Regions from separate parts of the Homo sapiens genome. Here region 1 is linked to region 2. Evidence: fine-mapped expression QTL. A gene starts in region 2. The other region holds a variant in brackets. All regions are shown on one strand. Distances are between the middles of the regions.

Region 1 (4,387 bases), 210 kb after region 2:
TTGTACCACTCACTAAAATCACTGAATTGCACACTTAAAAGGGGTGAGTTCTCGAGACCTTCCTGGCTAACACGGTGAAACCCCGTCTCTACTAAAAATACAAAAAATTAGCCGGGCGAGGTGGCGGGCGCCTGTAGTCCCGGCTACTCGGGAGGCTGAGGCAGGAGAATGGCGTGAACCCCGGGGGCGGAGCCTGCAGTGTGCCGAGATCGCGCCACTGCACTCCCAGCCTGGGCGACAGAGCGAGACTCCATCACAAAAAAAAAAAAAGGGGGGGTGTGAATTCGGCTGGACACAGTGGCTCATACCTGTAATCCCTGCACTTTGAGAGGCCAAGGTGGGCAGATCCCTTGAGCCCATGAGTTCGAGACCAGCCTGGGCAACATGGCGAAACCCCGTGTCTACAAAAAATACAAAATATTAGCCGGGCATGGTGTCACGTGCCTGTAGTCCCAGCTACTGGAGGGGTGAGGTGGGAGGATCACCTGAGCCTTGGAGGTCGAGGCTGCAGTGAGCCGTGATCGCACCACTGCACTCCAGCCTGGGTGATAGAGTACGACTCTGTCTCAAAAAAAAAAAAAAAAAAAAAAAAAAAGAGCTGAATTTTATGATATGTAAAATATATCTCAATAAAGACCCTTTAAATATTAGACTGACACATAACGCTGTTTTAAGTGTCTGGCATATAAGCAACTCATTTAATCCTTATAACAGCCCTATGAAGCAAGTAATATTATTTATCTTTTCATAAATGAGGAAACTGAGGCACAGATAGATTAGGTGACTTGCCAAAGAGCTCACAACCAGTAATTGGTAAAGAAGGAACTCCAACCTAGCCAGTCTGGCTCTAGAGTCTGTGATCTTAACCATGGCTTCCATTTGTGGGAAGAAAAATTTGTACAGATACACATGTATATGGCAATGTGTGGAAGGAATCATAAGGCACTTTAATCAGTGATCCTCTCTGGGCAGTGGGAGTGAGGGTGGGCAGCAAAGCAAGACTTTCACTTATTACTTTATACTTCTTTGAATTCTGAATTTTTTATACATTTTCTAATAACTCATGTATTCATTTTGTAGATAAGAAACTTCTACTTTTAAATCAAAACATTGGTTATCTTTGATTTGTTACATTATACACCTTTAATTTCCCTGAACATTTTTACATTTTCCATGTTCTTTGGGATATGTGTGTCTTCGGGCCAAGTTCTCAAATAATTACCATGACATGTTTTCTGCTACATTTTGTCTTGCCAGTGTCAGAGTCCCAAGATGGGGCTGAGGCCAAGAAGGGTTGGGTAGGAGGCTACGGAAAACTTCATGAAAGAAGGGCCTGTATTGCTCGCTCTGCTTGGGCAAGACTGTGATTGGGCTGGATTCAAGGCTGTCCTGAGCTGCAGTGTGCAGCTCTGAACTCCCTGGATCCCCTGGGGCACTCTAAGGGGGGCTGGCTGCTTCAGAAATTGCTTCTATTCTGTAGGGGAATAGATTATCTGCATGCATGTGCACATGTGCGAACAAACCCATTTAATGAAAGCAGGAGTTTGGACTTGTGCCTGAAGAGTAGGAGTGATTCTGCCCTGATGTGTGAGTGTGTAGCATGGGTGTTTTTGTTCTTGTTTGTTTCACTTAATATTTAAAGATACTCAAATGGGACTATGTTATGAAAGCAACTAAGTGTTGTGGAGTGTCTTTACTAACATAGGAAATAATAGTTTGTAAACTTTAGGAAGCATTAGACTGTTGAGATGCTTAAAAGAAAATGGAAAGAGTTGATGTTTAGACTGCGATTAACTCTCTTTGTAATCATTCCCTTGGTTCGATGATGTTGTGGAGCTGAGGAATAATAACAAGGTTGGTTGGTTTGTTTTTAATATGTACTTACTGTATACTAACACCCTACAAAGGGCATATTGTGAGAGAATAGGATATTCTTTTTTTATTATTATACTTTAAGTTCTAGGGTACATGTGCACAATGTGCAGGTTTGTTACATATGTATACATGTGCCATGTTGGTGTGCTGCACCCGTTAACTCGTCGTTTACATTAGGTATATCTCCTAATGCTCTCCCTCCCCCTTCCCCACACCCCACAACAGGCCCCGGTGTGTGATGTTCCCCACCCTGTGTCCAAGTGTTCTCATTGTTCAATTCCCACCTATGAGTGAGAACATGAGGGTTTGGTTTTCTGTCCTTGTGATAGTTTGCTGGGAATGATGGTTTCCAGCTTCATCCATGTCCCTAAAAGGACATGAACGCATCCTTTTTTATGGCTGCATATTATTCCATGGTGTATTTGTGCCACATTTTCTGAATCCAGTCCATCATTGTTGGACATTTGAGTTGGTTCCAAGTCTTTGCTATTGTTTATAGTGCCGCAATAAACATACATGTGCATGTGTCTTTATAGCAGCATGATTTATAATCCTTTGGGTATACACCCAGTAATGGGATGGCTGGGTCAAACGGTATTTCCAGTTCTAGATCCTTGAGGAATCGCCATACTGTCTTCCACAATGGTTGAACTAGTTTACAGTCCCACCAACAG[T/C]GTAAAAGCGTTCCTGAGAATAGGATATTATTTCATGAAGGTTTTCTCTTTGAAGATTTCATATTCAATAAGGACTGATTAAAAGATATTTGGACAGGTCGGGCGCAGTGGTTCACACCTGTAATCCCAGCACTTTGGGAGGCTGAGGTGGTCAGGAGTAAGAGACCAGCCTGACCAACATGGTGAAACCCCCGTCGCTACTAAAAATACAATAAATTAGCTGGGCGTGGTGGCATGCGCCTGTAATCCCAGCTACTCAGGAGGCTGAGGCAGGCAGAATTGCTTGAACCCGGGAGGCGGAGGTTGCAGTGAGCCAACATCGCACTACTGCACTCCAGCCTGGGCGACAGAGAGAGACTCTGTCACACACACATGCGCGCACACACACACACACACACACACAAAGAAAAAAAAAGAAACTGAAGGGGGGAAATAGTCTTTTCAAATGGCCTATCTTCTCTTATATGCCACTTTTTTTTTTTCAGACGGTGTTTTGCTCTTGTTGCCCAGCCTAGAGGTGCAATGGCGTGATCTCGGCTCACCACAACCTCTGACTCCCGGGTTCAAGCAATTCTCCTGCCTCAGCCTCCCAAGTAGCTGGGATTACAGGCACGCACCACCACGCTCCGCTTATTTTGTATTTTTAGTAGAGACGGGGTTTCTCCATGTTGGTCAGGCTACTCTCGAACTCCCGACCTCAGATGATCTGCCTGCCTTGGCCTCTCAAAGTGCTGGGATTACAGGCGTGAGCCACCGCACCTGCCCTTATCTGCCACTTTCCTGCTGAGGAAGTACATGGCCTTTCTGGACAGGAAAATGTGTCCAGAATCTCTTACGCTGTACCCTAGGTTGCCCTGTGTACATAATGTAGCTACTTTACCTTTCTAGTTATGATTCTGAGTAATTGTCTACCCTGCTATATATGCTGTATATAGCCATTGGTGAATTGTCTATATCCAGGCAAGTGCCACGTCAGTTTGATTTGCTTTGTGGACATTGCTAATAGGTTTGTGTTTTCCCAGAAAAAAAGTGGTGAGAAACTGGCTGGAAGAAACAAGAGCCTTACCAACTCACCACTTCATTTTTTTTAATGAAAATTTTGAGGATATGGTAATGAGAACACCATCAGATGAAGCATGACAATCCCAAAGAACTGATGTGCACTTGATAAATGCTTGTGGTTAGAACAGCTGACCCATTTTCCCCAGTTTCCATAAGCCATGTCATCCCTGATTAAAGAGCCAGGTAGGTCAATGTCAAATAAGTACTTACTCTTCCATTTGCTAGATGTTATAGGAGGAATATTTAAAAATTTTTAAGTGTTCAGAATGCTACTAAACTTTTAGGTATTGGAGAGGGGTAGGAATATAAGCAAGCTGCTATGACCAACACACAACTAAAGTGCATGTCCCAAGAATAAAAGGTTAGGCCTGATGATCATGTACTTTAATTCCTCAAGGTAAGGTCGGCATAATCTAAGAGCAAAAAACCAAATACAAGCCCTTGGGGTCAGCCACACTTGAAAAGGAGGAGGAAATTCAAACAACAAAGTAAACTAGAAAGAGCAGTAAAAGGGAAGAAAATCAGGATGTTACACAGTCAAAACAAAAAAAGAAAAATATTTTTAGTGGTACCAAATGCAACAAAGACTTCAAGAAAGAGAAGCAGCAAAAAGCGATTTGACCAGGAGGAAGTTAGCTGTGGTTTCCGAGGTTAAGTGGTTTCTGACTGGGCAGGTGGTTTCTATTATATAAATGGTGGCTTACATAGAATGAGATGTTGAGATCATCTTATTTCACACAGAACATTAAAGGACCATTATAATTAGACTCACTCAT
Region 2 (4,387 bases):
GGCTGCACGGGGCTCTGCCTGGCCTCGCCTCTCCACACCCCTCCGAGACCGACGCCGTCGGCGCTCCAGCTTCCCGCCGGCTCGGGCCGCCTGTTGCGCGCGCCCCGTGGCCCCGGAGGCCGCGGGAGAAGTCCCGCCCAGGGCGGCCCGGCGGCGCGCGGGGGACACCCGCGGCGGCTCCAATGCTGAGGTTGCGGCGGACGCGGCGGGGGCTCGCGGGGGCCCCGGGGGCTCCGAGGGGCCAAGGGAGCGCCGCGCGGCCCCGAGCCCCCTCCCTCCAGCCCGGCTACTCAGTTTTACCCCTTCAAAGTTAGCCGGGCGCGACTGTCGGCAGCCGCCCAGGGCTGCGGGTCGGGCGGCGTCTGCGCGGCCTGGAGGACGCACCGCTGAGTCCGGACAGTACTTGAGGCGAAGGTAAAGAGGGCGGAGGAGGCGCAGCCTTTCAGGCACTGCCCGGCCCGCCGCGGTGCACCGGCACTGAGGCTGGCGAACTCGCTGTCTGTGCACCTGGCATGCGCAAAGACCTCCCCCCAGCGCTCCCAGTTCACTGCGGAGAGAGTACCCGCTTGGAATGCGCCCTCCGGGGTCTGGGGGGGCCACACTGGCCTCTTCGAGGCCTGTTCGGGAGAAAGGGGGTGTCGCAGACGGGAGTCAGTTACTGGCAAGCGCCGCGGGCACCCGGTTATAGGGTTGAGTCGGATGGCGGTCCCGGGGCCAGCAGAGGAAGGGGGAGGGGAGAGAGGCTGCCAGAGCTTGAGCGCGCTCCCTCGCGCTAAGGCTGGCTTCGAAGGGCTTGGGGGCGCGTCTGTCCAGGATCCGAGGTGGGAGCGGAGTTCCCCCCACAGAGCAGTTGAGGGTCTGCGGGCGTTTTCGTCTAGGAAATCAAAGTTAACAACGCAGTCCGACCCTCCACGTCAAGTTTGTGGAAACGGGGAGATGGCAATTTGTCCAAGAAAATCAAAGCCCCGGTCTTTCTAATGGCCGGGGGTGGCGGGGAATGGGGAAGAGGGAAGGGGAGGCAACAACAGTACCGGCCAGGAGAGGCGGGGCCGCCGCCGTGGGTACCGGGTGCTTCTCTTCTCTCCGTTTGGGCTGGGGTGTCGCTCCAAGGTCCGCCGCCGCCGCCGCCGCCGCCGCCGCCGCGGGAGGAAGCCCTCCTAGCTCAGTTGCACGTCGCTGGGGTCCGCCTCAGCAGCTGCCACAGTCGACGATTTTGTCGCCGCCGAAGTTTACTTGCAGGAGCGTCTTGATTTCATCTTCCCGGAGAGGCGCTGGCCGCGCTGCGTTGGGCTCCCTTCCTCCCGGGCGCTCGCGCACTCGGGAGGTCTGTCTCGCTTTCTCTGTCTGTCTCGGGCTGTGTGTGAATGTGTGAGAGAGAGAGGAAGAGTGAGTGTGTGGTGTGGGGAGTGTGAGTGTGGAGTATGAGCAAGCAGGAGGCAATGGGTTTGGGGTAGGAGGTTTAGGATTTCGGATGAAATCGCTCAGCCGGAATGCTGCGGAGCGCAACGCGCCAAGGGCCAGCGCCGGGCTAGGGACGCGGGTGCCAGTGCCTCCCGGGCAAGCCAGGCATGGTGCACGGGAGCTGTGCTGCCGTCTGTGCCCGCTCGTCCGTCTCCGCGCTGCGCCAGCCGCCGCCGCTACTGCTGCTGCTGCTCCTCCGGATGCCGCAAACTACTGGCCGCGGAGTCTGGAGAAAGCCGGAGAAAGCTCAAGCTGCCGAGCCCGGCTACGCCAGGCCCTGGCCAATCAGCGCGCCGCCAGCGGGCTCCAGTCTTGGGGCGGGGCCAAGCGGAGGCGGGGGGTAGCGGGGGGGCGGGGCCAAGCGGAAACTTCACACCGGCGGGACCAAGTGGTACCCCGGCCCATGGAGCCCTGGCGGGATTCATGGGAGGACGGACAGACAGGCCAGGCAGGCCAGGCAGGAGCAATAGGGCAGGAATGAGCAGGGAGGCGGTGTGCTGGCGCTGCGGCTGAGCCTCGCCGGGAACTGTGCGCTTCTCATGTTTGCAGAGATTTCAGGAAAGATGAGGATGATATGATTGTCTTATCGTGTTTACCTCCCTTACATATCTTCATATCTTGAATATAATATATACATATATATACACATATATATATATATACACACATATATATATCCCTCTATTTCTCCTTGTCTCTTCACCCTAAAAAATCGTCTGTTTTTGTTTTCCTCTCTTCTCATTCTCTGGTAGTGGAAGGAAGAAAGGGAAGGAGAAAGCGCCCCTGAGGTGGTCATTCATCCAGCTCTTAGCCGGTGTGTCTTCACATCAGGCCAGAGCCACGGCCGCCACCCCCCCGGACCGTCACCCCCATCCTTCCACCCCGGGCAGACGCCGCACTACTCTCTGCGTGCCGCACTCCCAGCAGGGCCCCTGGATCGGTTCGCTCTTGTCTGTTGCTTGTTAATCAAATGGGATATGTGGCACAGAGAATGAGCTACGGAGGGGGCCGGACACATTTCATTGCCCCTCACCCCACCCTGTTGGAGAATTTAGCTCCCTATAAATAAACTGTACGTTTGAGAAGAGCCGGTGGAGCGGACGCCGCCGCGCCGCGCCAAGCCAGCAGAGCTCAAAGCCGGGCAGGAGCTCTGGGGCGGGCACGCCATACATGTCCGCTTAGGTCGCCGACAGCTGGGAGCCGGCGCCGATGTGCAGGGCGCCCCAGCCTTCCCGCGGGGTCTCGGTCCCAGGGGGCTGCCAGCTCCACTTGGGCGGCGGTGGTGGCTGCGGCATGTGCCAGTACTGGGAAGCGGGAGGCCGGCGTGGCCAGGGCTGACATCAAGCTCATCCTGCCTTCTGCACTGAAGGCTCCCTGGGGGCAGCGGGGCATTCCTCCCCACCCGGGCTCTGAGGCTTTTAATTAAGGTCGCCAGCGGCAAAAAAATCAAAAACGTGCCCGTTAAACAAGTTTTTTTTTCTCTTAGAATGTGGGGAAGCTGCTTCTGAATTCACAATTCTTGGAAGAGTAAAAATGTCTTCTGAGTGAGTCGTCTCGGATATTTGGGAGTGGGATAAGCAGACTCATAATTAGCCCAGCGACATTGGCTCGAGCCTGTGGGCTTCACATGAGCGTCATTTTTGCCCTCTAAAAAGCGTTAAACAAGAAAAGGAAACCGGCATTTGGACACATAATGGGTTTTCTCAAAACTGCCATCTTCTTGTGGAGAGCAACCCAGCTGCTTTTTAAAATATTTTTCCTTCCAAGAAGAGCTACTTTAGCAGCCTTTACCTTGGCGGTGGGAGAGGGGAAAGGCGGCTTCCTCTTACAGAAAGAAATTATTTCGCGAGTGAGATTGCGATCCCCTGAATATGTAGCCGAGGCCAAAGGGAGAGCGTAGGGAGCCTGATCCGCTTTCCGCGTGGGGGTCGTTTCACTGTTTCACGTTAGGATGTGATTCGGCCCAGAACAACAGGGAGAAAACCGATGCTTCTGCAATGAGTATCATTTAATTTTGGTCATTTAGAGCTGCGGGTGGACACCAGAGTGGTGGCTCAAGGGAGCCCGGTGGCCCGACCGGTTTTCTCCAGACACCGTTGGAGAAATGGGCAAGTAGTAGAGAATGACAACATGGCAGGCAGCGGTGGGCGCACCTCGCGGGCTCCGCGAAAGGAAGGGTTCCATTTGATTTATCACAGTTATTTACCTTTGATGTCAGAGCATGGGAATGAAGTGCATCTTGGTCTAATTAAAAAGGCCTAAAAAGGCATTTGAAATGGGTTTGCTATCTGATCACGGGATGTGAATTCGGCGTTTGGCAGCTTTCTAAAATATTGCTTGGACTATTTAAACAGAACAATTAGCAGCATGCTAAAATGTTTGCATGCTATGCTTAGAAGCTTTTAGCTGTAAACTTTAAGGCGATCTGTTCCCCCTTTAAGTTAAAAAAGGATGATGCTGCTTCCTTGTGGCGAAGGCTGTCAGGAACCCACTGATCAATAAAAGTAAACTGGCGCCTCCACGGCTTGATTGAGCGGGAGCAAAGAGTCTGAGAAGTAGTCTCGGCCATTAACAATCCCCCAGGTAACGAGAAATGGAAGAATTACTCAGGTAAAATGATTAACATTGTCGTAGCATCTGAAAAGATGCACACAACAAGATAAGAAGACTGCAGACCTCTTACCTTAGGGAGTGCTAATAGAATGTCTATATTCTGCTGTCTTTTAAAGATAAATAGGAGAATTCAATTCATGTACAATGTCATTACCTTCATAATTGCAATCACAATGTAAAGACATGTTCTGCATTTGCAAAGACAAACCCTCTTTGCTAAGGCGATGCCACCGTGTTCCCTGCTTCCTGCTCGCTGTTCACACTCCAGGCACCCCTCTTTTCCAAGGAGAGCATCCAAGTACTTCCAGCTACC

Which allele goes with the higher level. Alleles are on the strand shown, and positions count from the first base shown. SD is a standard deviation of normalised expression in the study named.
For the expression in prostate of the gene that starts at base 1,676 in region 2, allele T in region 1 goes with a lower level than allele C (small effect, 0.32 SD a copy in GTEx).

Evidence for each region. PIP is the estimated chance that this variant, and not a neighbour inherited with it, causes the effect.
Region 1: its variant is the best candidate, but not a certain one, in a credible set for the expression of PCDH19 in prostate (GTEx, PIP 0.54).

Annotation. Positions count from the first base shown.
Region 1 is chrX:100,621,813-100,626,199 of GRCh38, forward strand. LOC105373298 (a long non-coding RNA gene) reads right to left here and starts at 344. Exons shown (of 3, transcript XR_938469.2): 1 at 309-344. The variant T/C (reference allele first, on the strand shown) is at 2,550.
Region 2 is chrX:100,408,598-100,412,984 of GRCh38, forward strand. PCDH19 (protocadherin 19) reads right to left here and starts at 1,676. Exons shown (of 6, transcript NM_001184880.2): 1 at 1-1,676.